Linked DNA regions of Homo sapiens. The protein of the gene in region 2 purifies or fractionates together with the protein of the main gene of each other region. This does not show direct contact. Each region holds a gene or a part of one and is shown on either strand. Other genes may lie near its edges.

Region 1 (16,166 bases), on a different chromosome or scaffold from region 2:
AGGCAGCTGTACCGCGGAGGGCCTGGGTCTCGGAGTCTAAAAAATCAGACTGGACGTTACTATTTTTTTTTAGGCAAACGACAGCTCGTTTCTCATTTGTAAAACCGGGGGAACATCTTACCGAATAAACCTTACACAAACAGAAAGGATTCCTAAGGGCTGGGAAAATACTATTTTGCTGTCCCCAGGATGGAATATCAGCATCCTTGTCTTTTAGCTCTTAATAAAGCTCTAACTAGTCACAGGAGGAGCCAGGCTGCATGATCACGCACACTCTGGACGTCTAGGTTTTCCGACCTAATAAGGGGGCAGGTCGCGTCGTTCCCTGCTTAAATTAGAGACCACCTCCACCTGCCAAGGGCCCTTCAAACCCTCCGCCCCTAGGTCGCTAACGATCACCGCTTTAGTTCTAGCTCCAGGCGCCGCCTGGCGGCTGTCTCCGGAAGTCGCCTGCGAGCCTCGGGGTCCTGACCGCTGCTGGGCCTGCCCGTAGATTTGCCTGACTCTAGCGAACCTGGCTCCGCCCCTCCCCCACTATACGTTGAGGATTTTAAGACGGCGATGAAAGGGCTGAGGTTGTGGCGACGGGGGCGTCCAGCGGCATCTCCACTCCCCCAAGGATGGCGGAATCAGGCCGTTGTCGGGCAGCTCTCGACCCGGAAGTCGCTCGCGGCGCGAGGCCCCCGTTGCCGAGCGCGGGCGCGGGGGGCGGAGCTCGGCGGAGACGGGGAAGGGGTCGCCGTGGCTGCCGGTCCTCGAGTTGGGGGCTGCCGCGGACACTGCTAGGCAGACGGCGAGTACCGAGCGCGGGTGGCCGCGGTGTCCGTGGGCCACGCTCAGCTGCGGTCAGAGGCGACATGAGTGCCGCGGGGCTGCTGGCCCCGGCCCCGGCCCAGGCTGGAGCGCCGCCGGCCCCCGAGTACTACCCCGAGGAGGATGAAGAGCTGGAGAGCGCCGAGGACGACGAGCGCAGCTGTCGGGGCCGCGAGTCGGACGAAGGTGAGTCCTGCCGCTCGCCCGGCCGCCCGGAGCGGAGGTGGGACCGCTGGGGGAGGGGGTGGGGCTGTTCGGGAGAGGGGCGGGGCGGCCTCCGGGGCCTGGGGCTGCGTGGAGGGGCCGCCGGGAGTTGCGGGGCTCGGGGAAGTTACCCCCATCCGTGCTGGAGTAGCGGGGAAGCCCTGGGTGCGTTACACTCGACCGTGATGGGGAGAGGGGACTTAGATGTTGTCACGCTGGGGGTCCCTTTAAGACCCCGTCCTCCCTCCCAGCCGTTTCTGATTGAACCTCACTCACTAGTAGGAATTAGAAACTCATTTACTGAATACATCGAGTGTAGTTCGCCCCTTTTTTGTGTGTGAGAGCATCAGAGTCCAAAGTTGCCCCTCCCCACCCCCGAAATGCATAAGTCATCTATACTTTAGGTAGTACACTATTGAGAACTCAGGTTGGTTAAAGGAAAGGGACCTAGAACCAGCCAGATACAGGTTTAAATTTGGCTTTGTCACTTAACTCAGCTTTGTAAACTTAAGTTTTCCAGCCTCGATTTACCCAACTGTAATGGAGCTGTTTAATTCCCACACCTGCCCTAGAAGGCACTTCCTAGGGTCGGTATAGGGATTAAATGACATGCGCATAAAGTACTTGGCCTGGTACTGTAAATACTCCGTAAATGTTCTCCCCACCCGCCCCCCTCCCGGAAACAGGTAAGAGAGGGAGAGATTTGCTTAATGGTCCCCAGGTGTTGTGTTTTCAGTCCCACGCTCTTTGCACTGTCATCACAGAGTCTCAGAGCCTTGCTTTTCAAACTGGGCTTTATAATTTGGCAAGTGTGAGGAACGCTATTTTGGAGGGATGGAGGAGGAGGAAGGTGATGAAATGTGAGAGATCAAGGGAGGAGAAATAGGAAACAAAGAGAGACCGATATATGAGCGGAATATTCTGGGACAAAATCGGGCCGTGGAGCAAAAGCTAGACCAGCTGTTTGGAATGGGGCCTACGTTTTATTCATCTGAGTTTCCCGAGTGCCAAGTAATGTGGCTGACCATGACAGGAACTCAGGGAAGGCCTCTTGACTGAAGGAGGGGAGAAGGGTTTGTGGGGAATTGGATCTGCAACAGCCTTACAAAAGACAGCTGCATATGCATGACATACAAAGTTGAGGGACTGCATTCGATTTAATTCCATCAGAAGACACGGCTTAACCAGAGATTTTGAATGTGAAGCACTTGCACTTCATCTCATACCCACGAGGGGGCGCTGTGGAGCCAAAATTGAGTTTTTTTTTCCTTCCAGTATAGGGGCTATTAAAATTTTGTACACACCCCAGCCATTAGCTTGTTCTAAGAACAATGTTTAAGATGTTCTGAAACAGTTTTCGTTTGATCATCTGGCCTCCTCCTTGTTCCCTTTAGTTGTAACTTGGAAAATATTTATTTGTGTCAGATTCCCCTTTTTTATTGTATACAGTTGGCTCTGCGTATCTGTGGGTTCTGCATCTGTGAATTCAACCAAGCGCAGCTCAAAAATATTCAGGAAAAAAATTGGATCTGTACTGAACATGTGCAGACTTTTTTTTTGTTATTCCTAAACAGTGTAGCGTAACAACTACTTACATAGTATTTACATTTTATTGGATATTGTAAGTAATCTTTTTTTTTTTTTTTTTAAGATGGGGTCTCACTCACTCACCCAGGCTGGTGTGCAGTGTCACGATCTCAGCTCACTGCAACTTCCATCTCCTGGGTTCAAGCAGTTCTCCTGCCTCAGTCTCCGGAGTAGTTGGGATTACTGGCACCTGCCACCATGCCTGGCTAATTTTTGTGGTTTTATTTGTTGTTTTGTTTATTTTATTTTTTTTTGAGATGGAGTTTCACTCTTGTTGCCCAGGGTGGAGTGCAATGGCGCGATCTCGGCTCACCACAACCTCTGCCTCCCGAGTTCAAGCAATTCTCCTGCCTCAGCCTCCTGAGTAGCTGGGATTACAGGCATGTGCCGCCACCCCCAGCTAATTTTGTATTTTTAGTAGAGACGTGGTTTCTCCATGCTGGTCAGGCTGGTCTCGAACTCCCGACCTCAGGTGATCCACCTGCCTTTGCCTCCCAAAGTGCTGGGATTACAGGCGTGAGCCACTGCACCTGGCCCTAATTTTTGTGTTTTTAGTAGAGATGGGGTTTCACCACGTTGGCCAGGCTGGTCTGGAACTCCTGTCCTCAGGTGATTCTCCTGCTTTGGCCTTCCAAAGTGCTGGGATTACAGACATGAGCTGCCATGCCTGGCCTGGATATTCTAAGTAATCTAGAGATGATTTAAAGTGTACTGTTGGCCTGGTGCAGTGGCTCATGCCTGTAATCCCAGCACTTTGGAATGCGAAAGCAGGTGGTTCACTTGAGGCCAGGAGTTCGAGACCAGCCTGGCCAACGTGGCGAAACCTCATCTCTACTAAAAATACAAAAAGTAGCCGGGTGTGGTGGTGCACCCCTGTAATCCCAGCTATTTGGGAAGCTGAGGCAGGAGAATCGCTTGAACCCAGGAGGTGGAGGTTGCAGTGAGCCGAGATTGTGCCACTGCACTCCAGCCTGGGCGACAGAGTGAGACTGTGTCTCATTAAAAAGAAAAGTATACTGGAAGATGTGCGTAGGTTATATGCAAATACTATGCCATTTTGTCAGAGACTTGAGCAGCTGAGGATTTTGGTATCCACGGGAGGTGCAGTAACCACTCCCCCACGGATACTGAGGGACAACCGTGTATCCTGATGTAAAATGTGCGAAGGGTTCCAACTGGGTATGTATCAGAAGAGAATGTACATACTAGTTTTTTTCTGGAGCAGCGAGTAAGGCTTGACTGCCTGCAGTGTCCAGTCTTACGCCTGCATCTCCTTTCTTGAGTTGCCAGCATTGTTGTTTCTGCAGAAGTAGCAGCCTTCACCATAACTGCCTGTGCCTGAGACACCCTATTCTGTGGCTGCATTTCAGGTAAAGGCAAGCTTTTTGCATAAATCTGACTGTAAGTTGGAAATGGCCTTTTCTTTTCTGAAGTACGGCTGTCCCTCGGTATCTATGGGGGACTGGTTCCAGGACTTCATGGATACTACAACCTGAGGATACTCAAATTCTTTGCATTGGCCTTTTGTGTCCACAGGTTTCGTGTTTGCAGATAGGGATGGCCTACTAACTGTATGTAATGTTTTTCATTGATGGCTTTGTGCAAGCCTGCCTTGAATAGAAATTGATTTTACGGGAGTTTATTGAGTGCATACTCTGTGTCAGGTGACGCCAACTCCGTGAATTATGATTTTAACTAGCCCCTATTTCCTAACTTTATTCAGACACTGAGGATGCTAGTGAAACTGACCTGGCAAAGCATGATGAAGAAGACTATGTAGAAATGAAGGAACAGTGAGTATGATATGCCTATGTCTTTTTGGAACATAGAATTGACAACATCTTTATATAGATTGAGCATCCCAAATCTGAAATCTCAGATGCTCCAAAATCTAAAACTTCCTGAGTGCCAGCATGATGCTCAAAGGAAATGCTCATTGCACTATTTCAGATTTCAGATTTTTGGATGTGGGATGCTCAGCTGGTAAGTATATTGCAAATAATCTAAAATTTGAAAAAATCCAAAACACTTCTGATCCCAAGCATTTCAGATAAGGGATACTTAATCTGTAGTAACCTTGTGTGTATGAGTTTGACCATAGCGCTTCCAAAGACCATGTATGTTTACAATTTCTCCACTTTAAATTAATTACATTTAATCAGTCTTCCCGTTATAAGACTTTGTTGAGTACTCTCTAGAAAGAATCTTGAGGGCAATGGACCCAGGGGAGGGAATGAGGCCGTACAACAGGAGAGGACCTTTTACTACTTACTCTTTTTTTTCCTTGAGACAGAGCCTTGCTCTTTCGTCCAGACTGGAGTGCAGTGGCAGGATCTCCTCACTGCAACCACCGCCTTCCGGATTCAAATGATTCTCCTGCCTCAGCCTCCTGAGTAGCTGGGATTACAGGTGCACGCCACCACGCTCAGCTAATTTTTGTATTTTTAGTAGAGACAGGGTTTCACCATGTTGGCCAGGCTGGTCTCGAACTCCTGAGCTCGTGATCCGCCCACCTTGGCCTTCCAAAGTGCTGGGATTACAGGCGCGAGCCACTGCGCCCGGACCTTTTTTTTTCTTTTCTTTTTTAATGGGCAAACCAATGCACAGAGAGGGTAATTGTTGTCTTGAAGCAATTGGGTTCTCAGGTGAGTGTAAACTCACTGCACTAATGTGCTAGACAAGGTGCCGGAGGCCTGGAGAGCTCAGAGAAGCCACGATTGAAAAGCAGGCTGCTGACTCTTATTTATTTATTTATTTATTTTTATTTGTTTAATTTTTTTTTTTGAGATGGAGTCTTGCTCGGTTGCCCAGGCTGGAGTGCAGTGGTGCAATCTTGGCTCACCACAACCTCCACCTCCCAGGTTCAAGTGATTCTCCTGCCTCAGCCTCCCAAGTAGCTGGGATTATAGACATGCACCACCATGCCCGGCTAATTTTTGTATTTATTTATTTTTTTTGTGTGGAGATGGAGTGTCGCTTTGTTGCCCAGGCTGGAGTGCAGTGGCCTGATCTCGGCTCACTGCAACCTCTGCCTCCTGGGCTCAAGCAATTCTCCTGCCTCAGCCTCCCGAGTAGCAAGGACTACAGGCACATGCCACCATGCCCGGCTAATAATTTTCGTATTTTTAATAGAGACGGGGTTTCTCCATGTTGGCCAGGCTGGTGTCAAAACTCTTGACCTCAGGTGATCCACCTGCTTTGGTCTCCCAAAGTGCTGGGATTACAGGCGTGAGCGACCCTGCCTGGCCACATGCTGACTCTCAGGCCAGTGCTCTGTCCACGTTTGCACCTGCTCTCACCCAAACCTTCTCATTGTCTTCAGACAGAGCCACAGCCGAACAGATTCAGAGAAACGAAAACCTCACTCACTTTTAGCGTACACCCAGATGGAAAACGGTATAAAGTATATTTAATGTATATTTGTTGAATGTGTTAGGTTTTTAAAGTTCTTTACCTTTTAACAGGATGATCCACATTCATTTCCCTTTAGGTCCTTTTTGCAAATGTTTTGTGGCCATCCTCTGGATTCTCACATTGTTTTTGTGCTTTGGAACTCAAAGGGGTAATTCAGCTAGGTCTAACCAGTGCTGAATAAAGATGGATTACTTTTTTTTTTTTTGAAACAGAGTCTCACTCTGTCACCCAGGCTGGAGTGCAATGGCATGATCTCGTCTCACTGCAACCTCCACCTCCTGAGTTCGAGTGATTGTCATGGCTAAGCCTCCTGAGTAGCTGGGACTACAGGCATGCGCCACTACGCCTGGCTGATTTTTTTGTTGTTGTATTTTTAGTAGAGACGGGGTTTCACCATGTTGGCCAGGCTGGTCTTGAACTCCTGACCTCAGATGATCTGCTTGCTTCAGCCTCCCATCGTGTTGAGATTACAGGCCTGAGCCATCGTGCCAGGCCACTTTTTTTTGAGACAGTAGCCACTTTTTTTTGAGACAGTATCTTGTTTTGTTGCCTGGGCTGGAGTGCAGTGGCATGATAGCAGCTCACTGCAGTCTCAACCTCTGGGGCTCAATCCATTGATCCTCCCACCTCAGCCTTCCAAGTAGCTGGGACAACAGGCACGTGCCACCACGCCCAGCTGATTTTTAAAATTTTTAGTAGAAACTAGGTCTCACTGTGTTGCCCAGGCTGGTCTTGAATGCCTGAGCTCAAGCATTCCTCCTGTTTCGGCCTCCTGGAGTGCTAGGATTACAAGAATAAGCCAATGTGCCCAGCCTTTTTTTTTTTTTTTTTAAGAGACAGGGTCTTGCTCTGTCGCCCAGGCTGGAGTGCAGTGGCATGATCTCGGCTCACTGCAACCTCCAGCCCCTGGGTTCAAGCTATTCTTCTGCCTCAGCCTCACGAGTAGCTGGGATTACAGGCGCCCACCACCACGTCTGGCTAATTTTTTTTTTTTAAGTAGAGACAGGGTTTCACCATGTTGGCCAGGTTGGTCTCGAACTCCTGACCTCAAGTGATCCACCCGCCTCGGCCTCCTAAAGTGCTGGGATTACAGGCGTGAGCCACCTTGCCTGGCCTCCCTTAGTATTTGATGATACAGAAAAAATTTCGGTTAAAATGGAATGCCTTGTGTAATTCAAGGGGAAATCTAAAGTGCATCAGAATTTGCCCTGAAAGAGTGAGATGTGTGTGAGTCTCAAATTCTGCCTACTCTCCTCCCCTTACAGAGGGTTGGGTTGTATTTGCAGCCCTTATTTGAGCGCTAAAAAGGTTATCACGCCCATGTGCTCACTTCAGCAGCACATATACCAAAAGGTTATTGTGCTTGTTATATGTTGGACAGTGTTCTTTCAGATCACAAATCTTGTTTTTATCACTGTTAAATTGAGGGTGTTTTTCAGGTAGAAGCAAAAATACTTGCTGAAATGTGATTTATATGTGGAACCCACCTTCAAACCAACTTGCTGAAGTTATGACTGCCTATAATCCATTAGGTGTGAGAGGAAAAAACTAACATGCCAAATGCTTTTGCTTCGTGTGTGCTGTGTATTCCCATCCAGCTGGGGCTGCCAGTAAATGCTGCCTTTTAACTTTTCTTTCTGAATTACTATTATTTCTCTGATCCTAAAAGAGTAGTGCTTTAAAAAATGACATGAAGGTTTATTGACTTAGTTCTTACACTGCTAAGCATATCTGCATAGAAAAACATGCTGAAGGCATAATCTTACTCTCCTGTAACTTACAATCTAATTGTAGAGTTGATGTAAGAGTTGTGTTTAATGCCATTTCTACATTGTGTGTGTGCTTGCCTGTTTATAATTGTCATTTATTAAAATCTGCTATCGTTGCAAGTTTTAGACGGATTCTGTAAAGATGGGATAACATGGGAGAATCTACAAAATTAGAATAAGATTGAGGAACACAGGGTTCTTTCTTGTTCCTTTCTGATCCCTGTGGCTGCTGGTGCATTTTAAGCCAGCAAGCAGACTTTACTTTCCTCTCTTCCCTGAAGGACATTAATGACCTTCCCATAACAGCCCAGCTAATTTCTGTGAGTAGGTTATTTTGGAATTGAGTATTGAATGTTTTTATCTGTTAGTGTGACTTTTTTTTTTTTATAGGATGTATCAGGACAAACTGGCTTCTCTCAAGAGGCAGTTGCAACAACTGCAAGAAGGTTGGTGTGTGATTGAATCCTGCATTTCTAAATATGCTTCTTAATATTACAAACCCTTGAAATCTGTGTATTTCACTTCTCTGTGGGAGTTATTTAAAACACGGTCTGGCTGATCTTAGCTATCCAGTACATTTTGCTATCTTTTGCTGTCAGTAAAGTGGTGATTTTCCAGCTCCTTGATTTTGAAACATTTATTTCCAGTATGTGTGAGATTCTTTCTTCAAATGAAATCTCACTTGGGACTTTCAATGGAGCACGAATTGAACGCCACTGTGCCTAAAGCTAGAGATTTTTAGGAGAGACATTGTTATCAAAGAATAAAGTTTTTACTGTTTTTTCTAAACCAAATGTTAATGACCTTGTGGATTATTCACACTGTGTTTTCTCCTTTTTGCTTGTTACATTAAAAGTAGATTGTATTTTGTCAAATGCTGCTAGCTGCTAAAGGCAGTGCAGCATCAGAGTTAAGAGTGCAGGCTGTGAGGCCAGGCGCGGTGGCTCACACCTGTAATCCCAGCACTTTGCGAGGCCGAGGCGGGTGGATCACGAGGTCAGGAGATCGAGACAATCTTGGCTAACATGGTGAAACCCCGTCTCTACTGAAAAATGCAAAAAATTAGCTGGGCGTTGTAGTGGGCACCTGTAGTCCCAGCTACTCTGGAGGCTGAGGCAGGAGAATAGCGTGAACCTGGAGGCGGAACTTGCAGTGAGCCAAGATCGTGCCACTGCACTCCAGCATGGGCGACAAAGCGAGACTCAGTCTCAAAAAAAAAAAAAAGAGTGCAGGCTCTGGAGTTTTGTGAGGGATTGGAATCCCAGTTTCCCTGCTTCTAGTAATGTGACCTTGGACATGCCAGTTTCTCTTGTTTAATCTGTTTTCTGATCTGCAAAATGAAGCAAGTAAGAGTAGATGTGATTATGCATGAGGAGCGTCTAGCACAGCAGTGTGCACACTGCAAGGTCCTGGGGACAGTTAGCTGTGGCAGTGAGCTCTTCGGTTTCATATTGTGGAGTCCCCTTGTCAGTGAAACTGTTTTTGCTTTTCTTTTTTTTTTTTTCGAGGCTGAGTTCCGCTTTTGTCACCCAGGTGGAGGGCAGTGGCGCGATCTCAGCTCACTGCAACCTTCACCTCCTGGGTTCAAGCGATTCTCCTGCGTCAGCCTCCCGAGTAGCTGGGATTACAGACGCCTGCCACCAGGCCCGGCTAATTTTTGTATTTTTAATAGAAACGGGGTTTCACCACATTGGCCAGGCTGGTCTTGAACTCCTGAACTCAGGTGATCCGCCCACCTCAGCCTCTCAAAGTGCTGGGATCACAGGCATGAGCCACCATGCCCAGCCTGATACTGCTGTTTCTACTATGTGCTTTTATTGCTGGTGAGTGATCCACGCCCTTGGACTAGCCCATGGTCAGGCATTATAATCAGGAAACACTTCCCCCCACAAGATGGGCCCCTCATAATTAACTGTTTTGTGGGAAGAGCAATGAAATGAATAGCGATTTGGTTAGAATCTATACCTGAATTGTTTAATGCTGTCACTAGCCACATGTGGCTGTTTAAATTTAATTAATAATTTAGTTCTTCGGTTCCACTAGCTACATTTCAAGTGCTAAAATAGCCACAAATGGTTAGTGCCTGCCATGTTGGACATTGCAAATATAAAACACACCATTGCAGAAGGTTCTACTGGAGAGCGTTGACCTAGACCTTACTGAAGGAGAATGAACCTTTTCCAGTAAAGGAAGGCCCGTTGATTCAGACTGTTGCAGCAACTGATCAGAATAGTGTGGAGATATTGGCAATTTTCCACTCCCCCTCACTCACTACAGACCCTTGATCCACTGGGTTGGGTAGACTTTGAATGGGCCCCTAGTGGTTTCTGCTGTGTGCCTTGGTTAAGAACCAGAGTTAACTTTGCTGAGGTGTGTCTTCCTTTGGTGTTACTGAAACAGTCAGTGTTGATGCTAGATAATAATTTTAGGAAGCAAAATGTAGAGCAGATTTATATTCACAATAATTTTATTTTTCAAATGTTCAAAATCAGGTACATTACAGGAATATCAGAAGAGAATGAAAAAACTAGATCAGCAGTACAAAGAGAGGATACGGAATGCAGGTAAGGCTCCTTTAAATGGCAATGAATCATCTTTCAATGTTTGACCATTTGCCGATCGTCGGTGTAATGCAGCCCTAAGAGCTATTCTCCAAAACATATCCCAGATACTCTGTCAGGGAGAGTTTTCAGAAAAGAGACTTCCAAGCTGCAGTTATGGAAAGTGGTTTCATCTTCTGCTTCTGTTGCTAAGGAATGGCCCAGAAGTGGAGGGTGTCTGAGGAGGCTCCTTGGAGTTAGGTTGTTCTCCCTGGTACCCCAAGAGTAGTCTTGCACCCTCTTGCTCATTTCTGCATGGCTGGCCTGATGTACAGTCAGAAGTGCGGATGAGGAAAAGGATTGTAGGTTGTTTTTGTCCCATTTTAAGTTTTTTTTTTTGGTATTTTGTGCTAGGATTGGGGAGGGTCTTCTTGTTATTTTCCCCAAGTATTGTTTTTATAAGAATTTAGAGAAAACGCACACTTGATTAGTTGTATACAGTAAATGTATTCATTCAACAAAAATGAATTGAGCACCTGCTACATCTAAGCACTGCGAGCAATATAAAGTCATGTAACACATTGCTTTGACTTTAGGACACTTGGTGTTTCATTGACAAAAGATACCACATGTATAACGTGTAAAGTTAAGGAACACCGAGTTAAAGAGCCATGCAGAAAGTAAGATGTGACAACTGTTTAAAGTGTGTAAACATGGATTCCTGAGGTTACAGGAAATCGCGTGTATGTGTTGAATTTTTAACGCTCATCATCAGCCAGCAGTTTGGGTGCCAGCAGAGTCCTTGTTCCTGCGATGGTAGAAGTAATGATGGGTTTTAAAATGAGGGTTGGGTGCCACTCCTCATGCTGCTGTCATCTTTCATTCTGGGCCAGTGACTCTCCAACGCTTCACTGTGTCTCCTCAGTGAGAAGCTGCCCAGTGCACACCAACAGAGAGAAAAGGGGTTGAAGTGTGGGTGGGCGCTGAGAAAGTGGAGCCCCAGCTATTAGCTGTCTGCCTTTCCACCTTCTACCTCTCCCTGCTGTTACCCCCTTTCTACTCTGAGTTCCTGAAGCACCTCCTTGAGATGTCTTGAAAATCCTCAACCGGTTGCTCTTCCTAGACTTCCCTTTTAGCAGATAAAGGAGGTGGCATTTGTGGAAGGAGGTCCTGCCTCCTCACTTTAGATCTGATCCTTTAAGCAGAATATTTGCTCTTGAAACCTCAATTTCTCCATCTGTAGAGGGGAATATTAATACCTCATGGAACTGGCATAAGATGGAAGTAAGGAAAGAAAATGGATGTGAGTCATATTTCTGAAGTTAGAACAGCAGAGTGAGTATTGAGTTGTTTTTCTTCATTCTGCTCAGACTCTCAATCATGTCCTCATGTGTTCTTTTTTTTTTTTGAGACAGAGTCTCACTCTGTCACCCAGGCTGGAGTGTGGTGGCGCTATCTCAGCTCACTGCAACCTCCACCTCCTGGGTTCAAGCGATTCTCATGCCTCAGCCTCCTGAGTAGCTGGAATTACAGGCGCCTGCCACCACACCTGGCTAATTTTGTATTTTTAGTAGAGATAGGTTTTCACCATGTTGGCCAGGCTGCTCTCAAACTCCTGACCTCAGGTGATCCGCCCGGCTCGCCTTGGCCTCCCAAAGTGCTGGGGTTACAGGTGTGAGCCAACGTGCCCGGCCCTCATGTGTTCTTTCACATTTCTCTCTCCTAGGTAAAAATGCAGAAGAGCTCCTAAATCAGTCACGACTTGAGCTTTAAAAAGCACATTCTTTTCAGAGATGATCCACCTGCTTTAGTGGTGTCTGGCTGCTTTAACTGAAACAACTGCCACCTCTAAGTGCTAATTGTCATTTTGACTTGGTGCAAGGCATGATTTCTCGGAATGGCACAGGACTTCAGCTGTCTGGCCCACTTGTGCATGGTACAGATCTGAAGCTGTTATAGGAATGATCACATTGGGTTGGGTGTGCCTGGGTTCCTATGCCCAGCAATTCCCAGTGCCAAAGTGGGTAGGACTTCTGGGGGCTAAAAAATAATGAGTGGCTTGTCCCTTTCCTCAGTTAATTTTCTCTGTCAACAACTGTTAACATCTGGGCTTTTAATCTGGGGTTCCTAGAACTGTCAGAATTCTGTGGAGTTTGTATATGTGCTTTGTTCTGGGGAAGGGGTCCATAGCATTTGCCAGGTTTGCAAAGGGGCCCCTGGTAGACTGAGAATAGCACACCCTGGAGAATCTTTGTGGACTGTACGCACAGCCCCCTGTCACCCAGGAAAGAGTAGAAGCCATGGAGCAATTTTGCTTCAAGTTGCGGGTTTGTAGACAGGTTTGTGCTCTATTGTAAATCTAGTGGTGAGGGGAGCTGCTAGGTAACAGTTACTAATCATCCGGCACATGGTAGGTGCTAACTAAGTTGTTGAGTGCTGTTAGATGGGTGCTTTAAGGCATCTGAAGGGCATGATGTGTGAAGAGTCAGCAGGAAAGGCCTCAGGAGGGGGCTGCATTCAGTCAGGAACTTGGGAATGTGAATAGGAGGTCAGAGGGCATTGCAGGGACAGACAGCGTGAGCAGAGCTTGGTGGCCTGACAGTGAAGCCCCAGGTGTCCCTGGAGCCTCTGTCCTATGGATTATCTGTGGAGGTCCTTCCTTACCACATATAGCCCTTCATATAGTGCTTTAAAAAGGAGGTCCTGGCCGTAGGCAGTGGCTCACGCCTGTAATCCCAGCACTCTGGGAGGCTGAGGCTGGCGCATCACCTGAGGTCAAAATTTCAAGACCCTCCTGGCCAACATGGTGAAACCCCGTCTCTACTAAAAATACAAAAATCAGCCAGGTGTGGTGGTTTGCGCCTTTAATCCTAGCTACTTGGGAGGCTGAGGCAGTAGAATTGCTTGAACCCAGGAGGTGGAAGTTGCTGTGAGTCGAGATCATGCCACTGCACTCCAGTCTGGGTGACAGAGCCAGACTCTGTCTCAAAAAAACCAGAACCCCCCAGAAAACCAGGGGTCTCCATCCTTCAGGCTGCGGACCACTGGGCTGCTTTCCCCCACCTGCCGCCTGCCCCCCTACCCTGCCCCAGCCCGTGGGAGAATTGTCTTCCACCGAACTGGTCCCTGGTGCCAAAAAGGTTGGAGACCACTGCTTTAAAACATCACATCCACTCTGTTTCTGGAGTAATTGCATTATTTCTTCTTGACCCATCCTGCCACTGTGGAGACTGTTGGCGGGTGGACTGAGTGAAAGATGGGATAAGTTTATTTTGCCAGGGGAGTTTGGTTCCTGCTGCACGTTTTTTGCCCTCAGGCAGAACTGCCACAGCTGATATGTTCAGGGCCACATTTTTTTTTTTTTTTTTGAGACCAGGTTTCGCTCTGTCACCCAGGCTGTAGTACAGTGGCACAATCTCAGCTTACTGCAACCTCTGCCGCTCAGGTTCAAGTGAGTCTCCTACCTGCCTCAGCCTCTCGAGTAGTTGGGATTACAGGCGCCTGCCACCATGCCTGGCTAATTTTTATATTTTTAGTAGAGATGGGGTTTCGCCATGTTGGCAGGCTGGCAGGGTCACATTTTAACTAGACTTGAGTACTTGTCATGTCCTTTCCCTTCGTGTATATCAACATTTCACTGATGAAAACATTTGCTTTGTAACATGCTTTCAGAAAGCAATTACTGCTTCTAAATGAATGCTAACATCACTGTCTAGAAAGGTGGCACAGCCTAGCAAATCTAATTGCACTTTTTATCTCTTGCAGAACTCTTCCTCCAGCTGGAAGTAAGTACCACGGATCTTCTGGGTTTGCAGGCCCTGTCTGAGACTGGAATCTTGCAGTCCTGATCTGGTGGCTTTTCCTTCTATCACCAAGTAGATAGTTTGGAAGCCTTCACCACTGTTCTGTTTGACTTAAGGACATTTGGTCTCAGCTCAGACATCCTGTCTGGTCATTTGTTGTTGCGCAGCCTCTGCTTATCACAGGGGAATAAGGAATACTCATCCCTAACTGCTTATTGACTTCTATCCCGTGTTAGAGCTGTTTGGAAGTCTCTGAGTTATAACGGCCTAATAGTTTGATATTGGTCCTTGAAGCAGTTCAATCTCTGAATTGGCTCAGCAGTTCTGTTTTACAGCTGCAACTCTCTGGGCCAGTAAAAAAAGACAGATTTCTAATTTTTCCTTTCATTCCATGGACACCTGAGTGCTGGTTCTGTGTCAGACTCTGTGCTGTGATACAGAGATGAGGGCCTGAATCTTGAATGATGTACTGCTCCCAGAGTGGCTAGCATGTGTGTGGGGGTTACTTTTTGAGAAAGTCATGGTTTTTCAGAGCCACATTATTGGAACCCAGTTTCCTTAAATCAGTGTGGTGCCCATAGTCACTCAGCCAGAAGGATCACGTGATCAGCCTGAAGGTACACTCAAGTGAGGTACTCACATCCTTAGCCCACCATAGGCCCCTATGTCAGTCACCACAATGGCGAGATTTGAAAAGCGGAGGCATATACAATTTTTGTCTTAGTATAATATCAATATATGTATACTTTGGGGTTCAGGCACTTACTAAATGTTGTTCCATTCTTTTGTCTTGCTGTATCAAAAATAATAGTAACTTTTTGAATATACACAATTTATCTAGAATCTATTTTCCTTTGAAGCTGTAACTTTATGAGCGATTATTTACTACCTTTGAGAAATGTGTTTTAGTATAAAATATAGGATGTGGAAGCGAAAAAATATCTGGGTAGCAAGTGAGGTGTACTCAAAAATAAGCAAAAGTCACGTGGGTCTGATTTTATACCCTCGCTGGAAAGCTTGTTCTCAGACACACTGTTACTGCAAGTGTGTGTGAGGGGGAAACTCTCACACACTTTGCAGTTGAGGACAGGGCTAGACTTTGAGTTGGAGCCCTGGCTCCCAGGGCTGTGTACTCCCAGCCCGTGTTTCTCTTTTGCTCAGACTGAACAAGTGGAACGAAATTACATTAAAGAAAAGAAGGCAGCAGTGAAAGAATTTGAAGACAAGAAGGTTGAGCTGAAAGAGAACCTGATTGCTGAGCTAGAAGAAAAGAAGAAAATGATTGAAAATGAAAAGCTGACAATGGAACTGACTGGAGGTAGGAAAGCCCTATGGGGTGGGATCTTGGGGGCCCTGAGCGGGGGGGTGTGAAGGGCTGTTCCAGTTACTTTTGTCTTACATTTCAAGAGCAGAGCAAGGTGGAGAGTGGGTTTTGACCTCATAGATCAGAGTTCCTCCTCCACCTTCTATTGGCTGTGTGACCTTAGTCAAGCTGCTTAACTTCTCTTTTCTCCTCTATGAAATGGGGCTGATCATACCCTCTCACAGGATTGTGGTTAGACATATGAGTGCCTAGTACAGTGTCCTGTGCATAACAGATGTTCAATAGTTGCTAGACCTTTAATAGTAATTGCAAGCTCTGGCTTAGACTCTACTTAATTCCTGGGTCTGCTGCCATTTGTATCTTGGTTATGTTCCCAAATTGCTTACGCAAGTCCCTCTGTGGTGATGGGAATCCCTCGCTTTGTTTTTTTCCAGTCTGCCTTAATTACAGAAAAGGTATTGTCTCCCTTTGACCTAGATGTAAGAACAAAGGCTTTTGGCTATATCCTCTATGCTATTAGATCTCTCCTGCCAGGTGTTACTGAACATTTCAGAAAGATTTGATATGATTCCAACAGGATAGCCAAACTGAACTAGTTTCCCATAAAGGTAGGAAAGTTACATGAGACTCAGAGCCAATGCCTTTCTAACCTTCTAGAATTTAGTAATCCACATATGGGAACTCAGCAGGTTGTAGGCAGGTTTCAGGGAGA
Region 2 (16,166 bases):
CATGCTGAAATACATACAAATGAAATGACATGGTATCTAGGATTTGCTTCAAAATAATATGATACGAGCAGGTAGGTAAGCATATAGGTGAAGCAAAATTAGCCAAGAGCTGATAAGCTGAGAACTAAAGTTGGGTGACAGGCATATATTCCTATGTTCAAAATTTTTTTCTTTTTTTTTTTTTTTGAGACAGAGTCTCGCTCTGTTGTCCAGGCTGGAGTGTGGTGGCACGATCTCAGCTCACTGCAATCTCCGCCTCCTGGGTTCAAGTGATTCTCCCGCCTCAGCCTCCCGAGTAGCTGGGATTATAGGTGCCTGCCACCATGCCCTAGCTAATTTTTGTATTTTTACTAGAGACGGGGTTTCACCATGTTGGCCAGGCTGGTCTCGATCTCCTGACCTCAGATGATCTGCCCGCCTTGGCCTCCCAAAGTGCTGGGATTACAGGCTTGACCCACCGTGCCTGGCCACAGGATTTTCTTATGTTTAAACTTTTCCATAACAAAAATAAGGATAAAAGTTAAAAAAGCAAGACCAACTGCATTGCTGCCAACCCTCCCACCCCCAACACTGGCCAAAAACTAACCAAACCAAAAACAAATTTAAAAAAAAGAACCTAATGCGAAACATCACTATAAACCGACAGAATGACCAAACTCACAAAGACTGCCCAGAACAAGTGTTGGTGAGGATGAAACAATGATTACTCCTGGTGAGAGTGTAAATGGGTAAAACCACGCAGAAAACCATGCTCCATGAAAGTTTAAAACAAGCACACCCTATGACATAGCAAATCCCTCAGTATTTAACAGAAACGTACTCATGCATGAATCAAAAGTCATGCACAAAAATGTTCAGGGTATCATTACAGGAAAACATGGAAGCAACCCAAATAACCATGGATAAAACACGGTACTGTTATACATGGTATTTTATACAATTAAAAAATTACAATCAAGGCCAGGTGCTCACGCATGTAATCCTAGCACTTTGGGAGGCTGAACCAGGTGGAATGCTTCAGCCCGGGAGTTCGAGACCAGCCGGGGCAACATGGTGAAATCCCATCTCTACTAAAAATACAAAAACTGAGGTGGGAGGATCACCTGAGCCTGGGGAGGTAAATGCTGCAGTAAGCTGTGATCGCGCCACCACAGTCCAACCTGGGAGACAGAGTGAGACCCCCATCTCAACAACAACAACAACAAATTCATAGGCAATAATGCAGATGAATTACATAAAACCGAGTGATGAAAGTCAGACTCACACAAAAAAATGCACATCATATGATTCTATCTATCCATTGGTTAGTTACCTTTGGGAAAAGATGTTGGTAACTGTTAAGGTCACCACGACCAGACCATTTCCTTCCCCTCCCACAGGCCTTACAATACAGTCCCTTGCACTCTCCTCACAGCTACCCGAGGGCAAAAGACAAACCCCCACCCCACCCTTCACTGACCCCTCCAGTAACTGTCCAGTTACAGGATGCGGTTAACATGTCTGTTCACCTCGCACAACAAAGCTGGCAAAAAACATCTCCAGGATGCGGGTAAAGACACCTGTACCCGACTCAGCACTCCCACCCTGACCCAGTCCTCCTGCACCCCCAATTCAGCTCCCCCACCCCAACCCAGTCCTCCTGTACCCTCGACTCAGCTCCCTCACCCCGACCCAGTCCTCCTGCACCCCCGACTCAGCTCCCGCACTCCGACCTAGTCCTCCTGCACCCGACTCAGCTCCCTCACCCCAACCTAGTCCTCCTGCACCCCCGACTCAGCTCCCTCACCCCGACCCAGTCCTCTTGCACCCCTGACTCAGTTCCCCCACCCCGACTCAGTCCTCCTGCACCCCTGACTCAGCTCCCCCACCCCGACCCAGTCCTCCTGCACCCCCGACTCAGCTCCCTCACCCTGACCCAGTCCTCCTGCACCCCCGACTCAGCTCCCCCACCCCGACCCAGTCCTCCTGCACCCCCGACTCAGCTCCCCCACCCCGACCCAGTCCTCCTGCACCCCCGACAGCTCCCTCACCCCGACGCAGTCCTCCTGCACCCCGACTCAGCTCCCCTACCCCGACCCAGTCCTCCTGCACCCTCGACTCAGCTCTCCCACCCCGACCCAGTCCTCTTGCACCCGACTCAGCTCCCCGACCCCGACCCAGTTCTGGCCCTACAAAACCCTGCTATAGTCTGTAAGGGGGGCTGCCTCCTCTAACTGTGGTGGAGCAGCCAAGCAGCTCAATAAAGCTTGCTTGCCTGACTTTGGGTCTCCTCATCCTTTCTCTTGGCTGACCTTACAGTAACATTGTTTCTTGACCTATACAGTGGTTGGACACTGTTTATTTTGAGACTATACATGCGTCTGTGACATTTTCTATATACTTCCATGAAAATGATGAAAAAAAGACGGACAGAAGAACTGGACACAGCAAACACAGACAATTTCTTTTTACAAAGAAGAGCAAAAAAAAAAAATTTAGGGTGGTAGATAGTAGAGCAAAGTGAGCTCAACAGAAGGATATTTCATACAGAAGAAATGACGGCATGTTTATACTGTTTATGTGAATGATCTACTAACAAGAAAAAGCTGAGGCCGTAGGAGAGAGGGGGAGAAGAACTAGAGCATCATTCTTGAATAGACAAGAGAGGAGGAGACAGGGCATGTTGGAGAGGAGCCCATAGAGCTTGTCTAGAGGAACAGACAGAGGCAGGACATGGGGTACTGCCACCGTAAGTATTATAGATGTGATAGCTGCAGACTGTGGAAGTTGTCTTTTGATTTTCTTTTTCTCAAAAAAGGAGCAATTTGTCGACTAACAGTGAAGACGGAAGAAGCCTGGGAGTTTTGAGAGAAGGAAACGTAAAATAGTTATCTGGAGTGGTGCAAGAGAGTATACTTTGATGGGCTGCTTTAAGACCTTAGTGCGTCTGCGAGGCTAAGCAAGACCAGTTGGCAAAGTGGCTTTCCCTGCTGCAATTTGCTGTACATGTGCCAGCGTAAATGAAGCAGAAAGTTGGATTTAAGTCTGGTTTTGACAAAGCGAAGTGGGATGGGGGTTAAGGAAATGACTGCAAGTGACCACAGACTCTGAATCAGGAAGAGCAGAGAAAGAGGCCATGAGAGGCAGTGAAGAACATGAAAAGGTGGATCAATGGACTGGAGGCTGCTGGGGTCCCTCTGGAGCTGGAGTTCCATTGGGAGGGAGGTGGGAAGAAAGAAGATGGGCTAGGGGCATGGGAGCACAGAGACAAGGTCAGGAAGGCTCACTGAGCTTATGTGCTAAGTGCCCAAACTGGTGGGGAGGGTGGAGGCAGGAGAAGCATTCAAGCACCTGAGGGGCCAGGGAGCTGGAAAATCATTTCTGATCATTAAAGGTGAAGAGAGGGTTCCACTATCACTAAAAAGTGCCAGACATCATGTCCTTCCAAAAGGCATACAGATACACCTGCAAAATCTAACTTGACTCTGCGCCTCTAGATCTGCCCTGCCCAACAAGAAGGCCATATGGTACTACTGAGCAACTGAAATGTGGCAAGCGCAACTCAGGAACAAAATTTTTAATGTTATTTCATTTTAATTAATTTGAATTTTATAATGGATACTCGATCCAGTTACTGAGAAACTTTTTATTGTCTGGAATAACTTGGCTATGTGAAACTACTTTTTCAACTGTACATTTTATGAAATCTAAATACAGATCAAGTGCTTTTGAGGAGAAATGGTCTGAAAATGGCAGTGAGGCATGACAAGGACACCCTGCCTACCTCCAGGCTGAGTGACAGTAGGGATGTGGAAGAGAGGCAGGGACCACTTTAGACAGCTGCAGGGCAAGTTGAGTCCCAGGTTTAAAGCAAGAAGGCGTGGAGAAAGAAGAGACAAGGGCACTGGGGTGGAGGTTGGAGTGTCATGTGATGACAGGCTGTGAATTAGAGGGCACAGTACAAGGGTCTTTGGGAGGAAGTACGGGAGAAGCAGGCACATCTCTTTGTCTCCAGTGCTGCCAAATTTCAAAATACTGGCCTGAGTTTATTGCATCCATTGAATACTGTGCAGGGCATTTCTGTAACCAGGAAACTCATTTCTTTCAGTTTTGGTAATTTTCTATTACTTTGTTGTTTTTTTTTTTTTTTTTTTTTTTAAACATTTATCTATGTATTCAGAATCACACACAAGTTACCTTTACAGTTCAATTTACTATATAGAAATCATTGGGTTTTATATTTGCAGTTAACTTTTGAACTGAGATTACAATATTATAACAAACTCCTTACTTTGTAATCCCTGTTCCTTTTCTCTGATCTCTCTTGTTGAAACCCATTACCTGGAGGCTGGATTTCCTGACCTGGTTCTTTTTATTGTTGTTTTAAATTTTCTCCTATCGTTTTCTCCAATTTTCTTGTCTTTTTGTTCCACGTTTGAGATTTCTTCAATTTTATCTTCCAACTCTTCTACTGATCTTTCAATTTCTGCTATCTTATTTCAGGACCGGTTCTTTTCTCCTCTGAATGTTCTTTTTGCATAGCACTGTGTTACTGTTTTGTGGATGCAACCTTTTCTTTTGTCTTTCTGAAGGCATCACGGATACTGTTTGCTTATCCTTGCTCATTTGTTTTGTGTTTTATTCTCCCTGCCAGGCCTCTACATCTTCCAAGGTGCTTTGGGCATGTATTTATTGTGGTTTCTGTCTTCCACCGTTAGAGGTCCCCTCAGATATGTGCCTATCTTTGGTTGTATGTTCATGATTAAGAGTCGGGGAGAGGGACTGAAATGCTGGCTGGGAGCTCTGAGCTTTGGAAGGGCATGTCTACTATGAGGTCCACTGTAGGGTAATCTAACCCTGTCCTTAAGGAAGCCCTAGTGTCAGTATCTTTAGAGCTTCCCCTTGGGCTGGATAGACTCCCCAGAAGGAAAGTAGAGTCCTCTTCTCATTTTCTATCTAGAATCAAGTTCACCTGCCAGAGTTCTATCAGCTGAAAGCAGGGAGTGGACTGGGAAGTGTTCAGCACTCCACACACACACGGTGAGTCACAATCTCTTTCTGGTAAAATACTCATGACCTCTATAGTGCTGGGTGACCCTAGCGGACCATCTGCAGAGTTTGAACTTTCAGGCTCCTGCTAAAGTCGGGAAGGGGCAGTACACCACATGGCATAGGTAGAAAATGGGATTCTGGGCTCTAACTTTAACACTTTTCAAACTCAAAGGTTTTAACTTATCCTCCTTAAAGGACAGAGCCCCTTCCTTCGCCCCCAGGATTTGCCTGTTGTTGGTCCTTTTGAAGATTTTCCAATTTTAAAAGAGGATGGTTCTCAACTTTCCCCTACGCAAGCTTCACATTTAGCTTTCTCAGAGCCAGGACGCCATCGCGTGATGGTCTGCTTCCCAGCTTCAGTTGCTACTGTGTCCTCTCCTGTTCTCCCCATCCTTGTGTGTTTACAACTTTTTTGAAAAAAAGTTATATAGGGTTATGAGACAGAAAGATTTTAGATGTGTGTAATCAATCTGTCATCTTAACCACAAGCTTTGCCTTGTGTTTTTACTAATAAGGTAACTTTGTCATGGACTGACTTATCCTTTAAAAAAGTACAAAGTATTCATAAACAGCAAAGATAGGGACTCTGGTATATGCACAGCTCTGTGCAAATAAAAACCCTGCATGGACCCTAGTCCCAGCAATTTAAGTTTGCACTTGCTTTAATCTTTTGATGTTGATGCTATTAGCTCAGCTGAGCCACAGAAACTCTGCTCTCTGAAACATGTCTGCTCATCTCCCACCTCCAGAATGTTTAACTCAAACAGCACAGCACATACCTTCCTGCCTATGATCCACCAACTGAGAAGCTTACATGGCAACACAAAACACTATCTGCTACCAAATATGACCCTTACTACACTTCAGAATTTGTTTGCCCACAGTGACATAGAAGGGGAGTAGGGAAGTGCTGGGAAGGGGCGGGTCCCTGGTGAGGGCTCCACCCCCAGCCTGTGCCCACGGATCTAGGTGAGGACAGGCATTTTTGTTTTCCTGCCCAAATGTTGCATTTCCCCCAGACCACCCTGGCCTGCTACGCCCTGATCCTGTGCCTGTAAAAACCTCCGAGACCCTAGCAGACAGGCACACAAGTGGCTGGACGTCAAGAGGAACGCATTGGCAAAAGACACAAGCAGCTGGACGGCGAGAGGACAGCAAGGGGAGCATGCCGGTGGAAGAGCACATGACAGACGCTGGCATGCCAGCAGGCCCCCGACCAGCAGAACGACGCAGTTTGGCCAGGGCAGTCAAGAGAGCTGGGGCCGCTCCATCTCCCTTCTGGCTTCCCCCATCTGCTGAGAGCTACTTCTACTCAGTAAAACCCTACACTCATTCTCCAAGCCCACGTGTGATCCCATTCTTCCAGTACACCAAGGCAAGAACCCTGGGATACAGAAAGCTCTCTGTCCTTGCCATAAGGCAGGGGTCTAATTGAGCTGGTTAATGCAAGCCATCTATGGATGGCTAAACTAAAAGAGCACTCTGTAACACATGCCCACTGGGGTTTCAGCTGTAAACATTCACCTCTAGACACTGCTGTAGGGTTGGAGCGACACAGCCTGCCTGTCTGTATGCTCCCCTAGAGGTTTGAGTAGCAGGGCAATGAAGAAGCGAGCCACTCCCACTGTTGCACGCCCTGCGAGGGGGACAAGGGAACTTTTCCCGTTTCAACAGCAACGATTCATGCTGAATGAAGTTTATAGTATGAGTTAAGGTAACTACCTACACAAGCCCAAGAGTTACTTATAAACTACTTTAAAAGTTCTATGATTGAAGTTCCAGAACTAGAGAGAATTAAAGCAGTATGCAACAGATGCTTACAAACTAACACCTCACTGACTCCAGGATTTGTTAAGATCTTACAGTCTCAGCTGGGTAAGGCTCTACTGAATAATCCTGTGGTCAAGTTGTTTTGGAGGAAATTTTAACACACCACAGAAAATGAGAGATGAGTTTGATACCAGCATTAGATAAGAGTGCCTATTATGTATACCAGTTATATCCAGAACCAGAGGTGTCATTCGGCACTACCAGGTCTACTCACCCATCTGTGGCAGGTTTCTTCCGGAGTATGCTTGGCCGTGGCGATGAGCCCTGGGCGGGAGCGTTGGTGCTAGCACTCTGGCTGTGGGTCTGCACCACGGTTGTTGCTGCTGGAGCAGCACTGAATGGATTGCTAATAGGGTTGGCCACAATTGTGGCTCCATCTGCCAACACCACTGCTACAGGAGAGAGGCAACAGGAAAGAACATTGAAGAGAGGGAAACAAAATGCCATAGAAGACATAAATAAAAATGATGAGACCACTAGAATTAGGTATCCATGTTCTAACTGTCCAATTTCAAACTGATAAGGGACAGGAGCACAATGTTCATCCGACAAAGAGCAGATAGCTAAATGGGAGCAGTTACTAAGTCTACTGATGCATGATCCATACCATTATTTTTTCTTTTTCTTTGTTTGAAAGAGAGTCTTGCTCTCTTGCCCAGGCTGGAATACAGTGGTGCAATCTCAGCTCACTGCAACCTCCACCTCCCAGGTTCAAGTGATTCTCCTGCCTTAACCACAAGAGTAGCTGGGATTACAGGCGTGCACCACCACACCTGGATAATTTTTGTATTTTTTAGTAGAGACGGGGTTTCACCGTGTTGGCCAGGCTAGTCTCGAATTCCTGACCTTAAGTGATCCACCTGCCTTGGCCTCCCAAAGTGCTGGGATTACAGGCGTGAGCCACCACACTTGGCCCATACCATTATTTTTTCTTTGCTCTATAATCACAGTTACTAATAAATGAGATAAGGTGAACAAAGTACATAGTATCTAGTATAGTCTCTCACTCTACTAGTTACTTTACATTTTTTACTGATATAATTCTTACCATCATTGTAATTTCCATTTTAGAGATAAGAAAACTGACAGACAAGAAAGGCTTAATACAAGAGCCACAAATAGAAAACACTATCTACCAGCCTGATAGCATGCTCCAATGTACACTTCAAGAAATGTACTCATTCAGTTTTTGTAAAATACCAATCTCTCTCAACCCTCAATAATGGTACCCTCCCCAGTCTATCTTTAGAAACACATTCAACTAACAGATATTTTAACTATACACTTAAAGTTAGCATCAAAATACTGGTGAGCATGAGATCATAATCAGAAAATACCTGTGTTTGACAGTTTTTGACCTATAAAAATGGCAATTTCATAGGAGTCAACTTAATATCATGAGTTTTCTGGCAGGTGCCCTTAAATATGTAGTACACCATCCTACCGGGTGGGTCATCATGGGTAAATTGCATCTCTATCATAGACATTTAGTTTAGTAATAAAAAATCAGAGAGACTTTGATTAAATAGTTGAATTCAAGGTCTACAGAACAATTAAAATTCATAGCTCCAGCCAGGCACAGTGGCTGATGCCTGCAATCGCAGCACTTTGGGAGGACAAGGCTGAAGGATAGCTTGAACTCTGGAGTTCGAGACCAGCCTGGGCAACAAGCAATATCCTGTTTCTACAAAAAATCAAAAATAATTACCCAGGTGTGGTGGCATGCACTTGTAGTCCTTGCTACACGGGTGTCTGAGGCATAAGGACTGCTTGAGCCCAGAAGGTCAAGGCTACAGTGAGCCATGATTGTACCACTGTGTTCCAGCTGGGCAACAGAGTGAGTGAGACCTTGTCTTTTTAAAAAAAAAAAAAAAAAAAAAATCAGTGCCTTGGCTGAGAAACAGCCATTTTGTTTTTTTAAACTACATTAGAGAAATGGCTAATCAATAATAATCCAAGTACATGGAATCTTAAATTCAGCCAAAAAAAAAATAACCTAGCTGGTGTAATGACTCATGCTTGTAATCCCAGCACTTTGTGAGGCCAAAGTGAGTAGACTACTTGAGCCCAGGAGTTTGAGACCAGCCTGGGCAACATGGCAAAACTCTGTCTCTATTAAAAATACAAAAATTAGCCAGGCATGGTAGCTTGCACCTATAGTCCCAGTTACTCAGGCGGCTGAGGTGGGAGGATCACTTGAGCCCAGGAGGATGAGGCTGTGGTGAGCCAAGATCACACACCACTGCACTCTAGCCTGGGTGACAGAGTGAGAATCTGTCTCAAAAAGATCTAAATACAGTGACTTATTCCATTTTTCAAAATGTTATTCCACTAGTATTTCTTTTTAAGAATTCATAATATTAGCTAACATCAGCATAAGGTTTTACAGCTTTATGTACAACTCTGAAGAAAATCTTCAATGAGAATACTACTTATAAGGTGAATTTTTTCCCACAACTAGGAGCTTTTAAAAAAGATAACACTTCTCATTATGTTCAAATGAATACTAGGGCTGTTGATGTATACTGTATCTTTTTTTTTTTTTGGAGACAGAGTCTCACTCTGTGGCCCAGGCTGGAGTGCAGTGGCGTGATCTCGGCTCACTGCAAGCTCCACATCCCCAGTTCACGCCATTCTCTCGCCTCAGCCTCCCGAGTAGCTAGGACTACAGGCCCCCGCCACCACGCCTGGCTAATTTTTTTGTATTTTTAGTAGACAGGGTTTTACCACGTTAGCCTGGATAGTCTTGATCTCCTGACCTCGTGATCCACCCGCCTCAGCCTCCCAAAGTGCTGGGATTACAGTGAGGTATATTATTTCTAACGTTTACAGTGACCCTGAAACTCTAAGTTCTAAGCAACTCATATTATTAATACAAAGAAGAAAAGGCCTAGAGAAATTATAAGACGACAAAGCCAGTGGCAGAGAAAGGATTTAAACCCAAATGTATTTCTTTTCTCCAAACCACCTTCTATGCAAAAATTTAAAATTACCTGAAGTCTTTCCTTCAGGCTGAGGCTGCTGAGTACCCATAGGTGCAGGCTGAAGCCCTTGTGTGTTGATTGGGGTTGCTGAGTGAATTCCCTGTGTGCCAAGTGGTGCAGGCTGTATCCCTGGGGTCCCAATGGGGGCCGGCTGGATACCCTGGGTACTGATGGGTGCTGGCTGGATCCCTTGAATATGTCGAGCATGCGATGCATCCACTGTCATCAACTGCATGGGGTTTAGGTGGACGGTAGACGCTACCCCAACACCAGTCTGAGCTGTGATGGCAGAGTTTGGAGCCTGAGCTGAAACTAAAAATGATGCGAAAGGTAACTATAAGAAGGTTAGCTTCATTTCACACAGTCCACATAAAGAGAGAAACACTAAAAACGGATTTCCTCCACTGTATAAGATCTAAATCCATGGTTTGAAAAAAAATAAATAAATAAACATTGTTACTTGAAACTTACTATACTTGGGATTGTTATTTCCTTTCACTTCCTACCAATATGATGTTGTTTTTCTACAGACTACTAGAAATATGATTAAAACAAGAAAAAAGGCAATCAGCTATTAAATTGCAAATATTAGCCAGGAAACCATGCTAAATAATTAATATAAAACGTCAGAAATACACCCAGAGGTCCCAGGTCAAGAACCTCTGCTTTAATTGATAGGGCCACTATCACAGGTGGTTTTGAAATACAGTAGTTATGAATTTCAAATGGCATGTATCCACCAGAAACAGAGAACAAGCAAGTGTCCTGTGTCTTACAAGGCAAACACCCCATCTACTGTGTATATTGAAAAAAAAAAAAGAAAACAAGAGCATTCACAGAAAGCAACAAAAAAGGAGGAATTTCTTACTATCTGTGGAAAGAAAATAAACACAGAGGACTTTTTCCTCAGTCATCAAAACAATCCAGAGATGTTGGAACTTGTTTTCAAAGCTATTTAAATATCTTACACTTATAAGCTACCTTTTCCCTAAATAAACAAGTATCTTACAATGTTTGAAATTTTAGACCGGCACTGTTCAATGGCATAGTGGGTCACTCACACAACTTTAAATTTGCCAGTGGCTACAATAAAAAAGTAAAAACAGCCCGGTGTGATGATTTGTACCGATGATCCCAACGCTTTGGGAGACTGAGGTATGAGGAATGCTTGAACCCAGGAGTTGGAGACCAGCCTGGGCAACATGGCAAGACCCTATCTCTATAAAAAATTAAAGAATTAGCTTGGCATCATAACACATGCCTGTGGTTCCAGCTACTCAGGAGGCTGAGATGGGAGGATTCCCTTGAACTCAGGAATTTGAGGAGGCAGTGAGGTATGATTGCACCACTGCACCCAGCCTGAGTGACAGAGAAAGACTGTCTCAAAAAAAAAAAAAAAAAAGTAAAAGAAACAGGCCAGGCACGGTGGCTCACGCCTGTGATCCCAGCACTTTGGGAGGCCGAGGCAGGCGATCATTTGAGAGCAGGAGTTCAAAACCAGCCTGGTCAACAGGGTGAAACCCCATCTCTACTAAAAATACAAAAATTAGCTGGGTGTGCTGGCGCATACCTATAATACTATCCACTGGGGACAGTGAAGCAGGAGAATCACTTGAAGCTGGGAGGTGGAGGTTGCAGTGAGCCAAGATCACACTACTACACTCCAGCCTGGGCAACAGAGTGAAACTCCGTCTCAAAAAAAAAGAGACAGACCAAATTAATTTTGATCATATATTTTATTTAACCCAATATATTCAAAATATTACCATTTCAATATGTCATTAATAAACATTTTTTTTGGGACAAGGGTCTCGCTTTCTTGACTAGACTTGAGTGCGGTGGTGCAAACAACATGGCTCACTGCAGCCTCAACCTCCTGGGGCCAAGCAATCCTCCTGCCTCAGCCTCCCAAGCAGCTGGGACTACAGCACGCACCACACCATGCCTGGCTAATTTTTGTATTTTTGGTAGAGACTAGGTCTCATCTAGCTTGATCTCAAACTCCTGGTCTCAAGCGACCTTCCTCCTCAGCCTCCCAAAGTGCTAGGGTTATAGGCATGAGCCACCGCACCTGGCCTAAAAATTCTTAACAAGATATTTTACATTCTCTTTTCTATATTATGTCTTCAAAATCTAGGGTATATTTTACTCTTCGAGTACATCTCATGAATTTTTATCAGAAATGCTTAATCTGTATTTTGATTTCATAAAGCCTACAACTGAAAAAGTAGTTTTGCATTGCTAAGTTGTTCCAAACATACTTGAAATTTCTTGAAATTAAACAAAATTAACAATCGAGTTTTTCATGTACTAATCTACTTCAAGTGCTCTGTGGCCACACATGCCGCTGGCTGCCATATAGCACCGTGTGGCAGGAGGGCAATGTCCACAATCCAGGCAGCAATAACACTTTCTTTTGTCTTTTTTGTTTTTTTGAGACAGGCTCTCACTTTGTTACCTAGGCTGGAGTGCAGTGGCGCCATCATGGCTCACTGCAGCTTCAACCTCCTAGGCTCAGGCAATCCTCCCACCTTAGCTTCCTTAGTAGTTGGGACTAGAGGCACGCACCACCATGCCCACCTAATTTTTTAATTTTTTGTAGAGATGGGGTCTCCTTATATTGCCCAGGCTGGTCTCAAACTTTTGGGCCCAAGTGATCTGCCCACCATGGCCTCCCAAAGTGCTGGGATTACAGGCATCAGCCACAGCGCCCGGCCCCAGGCAATAAGGCTTTTTTTTTTTTTTTGAGATAGTTTCACTCTGTCACCCAGACTGGAGTGCAGTGGCACAATAGTGGCTCACTGCAGCCTCCGCCTCCCAAGTTCAAGTGATTTTCCTGCTTTATCCTCCCAAGTAGCTGGGATTATAGGCATGTGCCACCGTGCCTGGCTAATTTTGTATTTTTAGTAGAGACAGGGTTTCTCCATGTTGGCCAGGCTGGTCTCGAACTCCTGACCTCAAGTGATCTGCCTGCCCTGCCTCAGCCTCCCAAAGTGCTGGGATTACAGGCATGAGCCACTGCACCTGGCTGGAAATAAGGCTTTCTGATGCCCAGAGTGACCTGAGGGTTCCACAGTAAAAGACTACACAGACTCTGACATTTAAGGATTGTTTTTCCTGGATTAGCAAAAAGAACACTATTCACACGTCATCATGATGAGAGGAGAGCATAACAACTAAAAAACATATAACTGGTACACCAAATCCCTGTGCATGCAATTTATCAATATAACAAACCTGCACAAGTACCATGGAACCTAAAGTAAAAGTTATTATAAACAAACCTTTATAAATTTTTTAAAAATATAGCCAAGATTTGCATAAAACAATGGAAACCCTATAAAAGTGCAGCTCTATTCATTGTAACTACTGTCATTTTAAGGAGTAACAAAAATTGTTAACATGAGTATCCTCAGGGTGGCATAATACTATGCAAATATCACTAATGAGTAACAACTTTTATAGATCACAAAGATGATTATTTAAGACCTTCAAGCTTCACATTTTATCTGAATCTGAAAACAGAAGCTGAAATAATTAATCTCATACAAAAAATAACCCCTCATCAATTTCTACATTATTGTTGGCAAAAGTTAAACTGTGAAAAGTCATCTAAAAAGCAGGGCTCATACCTGGATACTGTCGGATAGTGGACACGGAACTGGTGATTGGGGTGTAGGTATGTGCCGCCAGTGGGTATGCAGAAGGGGGGTAAGTTGGCAAAAAATATTGGAACTGAACGGGAACAGACGGTCTAGAGACAGAACAGATGATAGCAAACAAAATAGTCATTTTCTTCTTTACTTTCAAATGATCCTATACCCCAGTTCCTCTTTGTGTCCTTCAGAACTGTCAAACAAGCTTTGCTCAAATTGTGTCCCAAACAAACTCTTACATCACAGGACACACACCAAGAATGCAAAATTAAAAAAAAAAAAAGTGGATACTATAAATACCTATATCAATAAATGTAAAAACATAGATAATATTCTATGGGTGATTTTTGAGAGTAAGTCTGAAAACCAGTTCACAAAATCTCAGTAATCAAATCTTCCCTGCTCAATTCCTCATGAACTACACTCAACTCAAATTGGTTTTACTGGCCAATTTCATTAAAAATACATAAAACAAATAATCCCAATTTCATTCAAACTGCTTCAGAAACAATGGAAAGAAAAAATGGGATCCAATTTATTTTTATTTTTTTAGAGACAGGGTCTTGCTATGTTGCCCAGGCTGGAGCGTAGTGGTTATTCACCAGCACAATCATGGTACACTATAACCTTGAACTCCTAGGTTCAATCAAGCCTCCTGCCTCAGCTGCCTGAATTCTGGGACTACAGACATGTGCCACCGTACCTGGCTCCTAGTTTAGTTTTTGAGCTTAATATAGCCTTGTTACTAATATTGGAACAGGAGAATATGACAAAAGAAAGATTATAAACAAATCTAACTCACTACAACAACAAAAAAACCTACATAAAATTGAATTAAGTACCATATAAAGTTAAATACATCATGATCAAATAAAGTTTATCATAGGGAGAGAAATACTTCAACATCAAAATGTCTATTCATGTTTTAGATAAATTTTAAAAATTAAAAGAGAACAATAATTTAAAACCTAAAAGATAAAAATATTCGACAGCAGTCAATAGTTATTCATGATATAAATGCCTAAGAAAATAGAAGTAGGCCAGGCACAGTGGCTCATGCCTGCTATCCTAGCACTTTGGGAGACTGAGGCAGGTGAATCATTTGAGCTCAGGAGTTCGAGACCAGCCTGAGCACTCTGGGAGGCTGAGGCAGGCAGGCTATTTGAGGCCAGAAGTTCAAGACCAGCCTGGCCAACATGGCGAAACTCCGTCTTCTACTAAAAATACAAAAATTAGCCAGGTGTGGTGGCACACGCCTATAATCCCAGTTACTCAGGAGGCTGAGGTATGAGAATCACTTGAACCTGGGAGGCAGGGATTGCAGTGAGCCGAGACTGCACCACTGCACTACAGCCTGGGCAACAGTGTGAGACCTCATCTCTACAAAAAATAAAAAAACTTCGCCAGGCATGATTGCATGTGCCTGCAGTCCCAGCTACTCGGGAGGCTGAGGTGGGAGGATCATTTGAGCCCGGAAGTCGAGGCTGCAGTGAGTTATGATGGTGCCACTGCACTCCAGCCTGGGCAACAGAGCAAGATCCTGTCTCAAAAACAAAACATAAAAACAAATGAAAATGATAAGACCCTCTTGCTTTCCCCTCAAACTGTCCTTATTTGTAGGCAAAATAAACATGTACATAGGAAATTCATAAATCTATAAACATTTAGAGCTAATTTACAGAATTATTTAGAGAATCTATAAACATTTAGAGCTAACAGGAGTATTCAACAAGGGGGATGGACATATCAATGTATCAAAATCTGTAAGCATTCCTAGACACAAATGATCAAATTAGAACACTTAACAATAACCTGTTTTTGAAACTACTTTGTGTATACTGTATAGGGTTCTTTATGGGAGAGGCAGATACAAACATGGAATGGGGGAAGCGATGGGGTTGAACTAGAGATATCAGCATGAACTCAAATGTTCTTAAAATATTATATACTTTCTACCTCTGCCTGCTCAAAGGGCCTAGAAGAATGACAACCCATAGCAACAAGCAGGGCTAATGCCCAGATCTTGGTTTGTAAATGACAAGGGGCTCCTTGGAGAAACAGCAGATTTCACAGCCAGACAGATAAAGTTCAATAGGAATCTAGAATATCTCGTCATTGGAAAATAAGGAAAGGCTAGAATAGAGGGGATGGGGCGAAATCCACAGAAGCAGACAGAAAGAACCCCCAAAGACCAAATGAGATCATGTGAGCACCAAAATAGATGACAGCAATGGATTCTAATAATGAATAAAAGCAAATCTACAAGGCCGAGCCGATTAAAAAACAGTAAAATGCTCAACATAATAAATAAATGGGGGTGGATAAGAGAAAGTTTCTTTACGTCAGAATGCCAGCTAATATATATAGACAACACGTTAGAAAAACTCACTATTTTGCAACTATCATATTAATAATTGATTCAGCCAGGAATTAATAATAGATCTACAACTATTGAATGAATGTTTACTGGAGAACAGGATATTTATACTCAGATATTTCCATACAGATTACTTGTTTACAAAGGAGAAAAACATGCTTTTCCAGTAGAAAAAACCAGCAAACATCACCTTCACTAAGTAATGAATGTTAACATAACCAATACGGGAAAAACAGACAGCATGAGCTCTCTGATGCAATGGGAAGAACACACTGCTTACCTGGTATA

Evidence for each region.
Region 1: the proteins of SAP130 (region 2) and SUDS3 purify together in Homo sapiens (affinity purification with western blotting; 3 studies listed by BioGRID, with this or other methods). This does not show direct contact.

What each region holds. Positions count from the first base shown.
Region 1 is NC_000012.12:118,375,835-118,392,000, forward strand, and holds the start of SUDS3 (sin3 histone deacetylase corepressor complex component SDS3), read left to right. Parts: upstream 1-720; 5' UTR 721-857; coding exon 858-999; intron 1,000-4,327; coding exon 4,328-4,397; intron 4,398-5,135; exon of another isoform or gene 5,136-5,854; coding exon of another isoform or gene 5,855-6,000; intron 6,001-6,025; exon of another isoform or gene 6,026-7,550; intron 7,551-8,177; coding exon 8,178-8,233; intron 8,234-10,279; coding exon 10,280-10,351; intron 10,352-11,570; exon of another isoform or gene 11,571-12,211; coding exon of another isoform or gene 12,212-12,263; intron 12,264-14,092; coding exon 14,093-14,112; intron 14,113-15,291; coding exon 15,292-15,448; intron 15,449-16,166.
Region 2 is NC_000002.12:127,979,710-127,995,875, forward strand, and holds part of SAP130 (histone deacetylase complex subunit SAP130), read right to left. Parts: intron 13,600-16,166; coding exon 13,478-13,599; intron 10,158-13,477; coding exon 9,855-10,157; intron 7,254-9,854; coding exon 7,076-7,253; intron 1-7,075. UniProt on the Homo sapiens protein: Acts as a transcriptional repressor. May function in the assembly and/or enzymatic activity of the mSin3A corepressor complex or in mediating interactions between the complex and other regulatory complexes.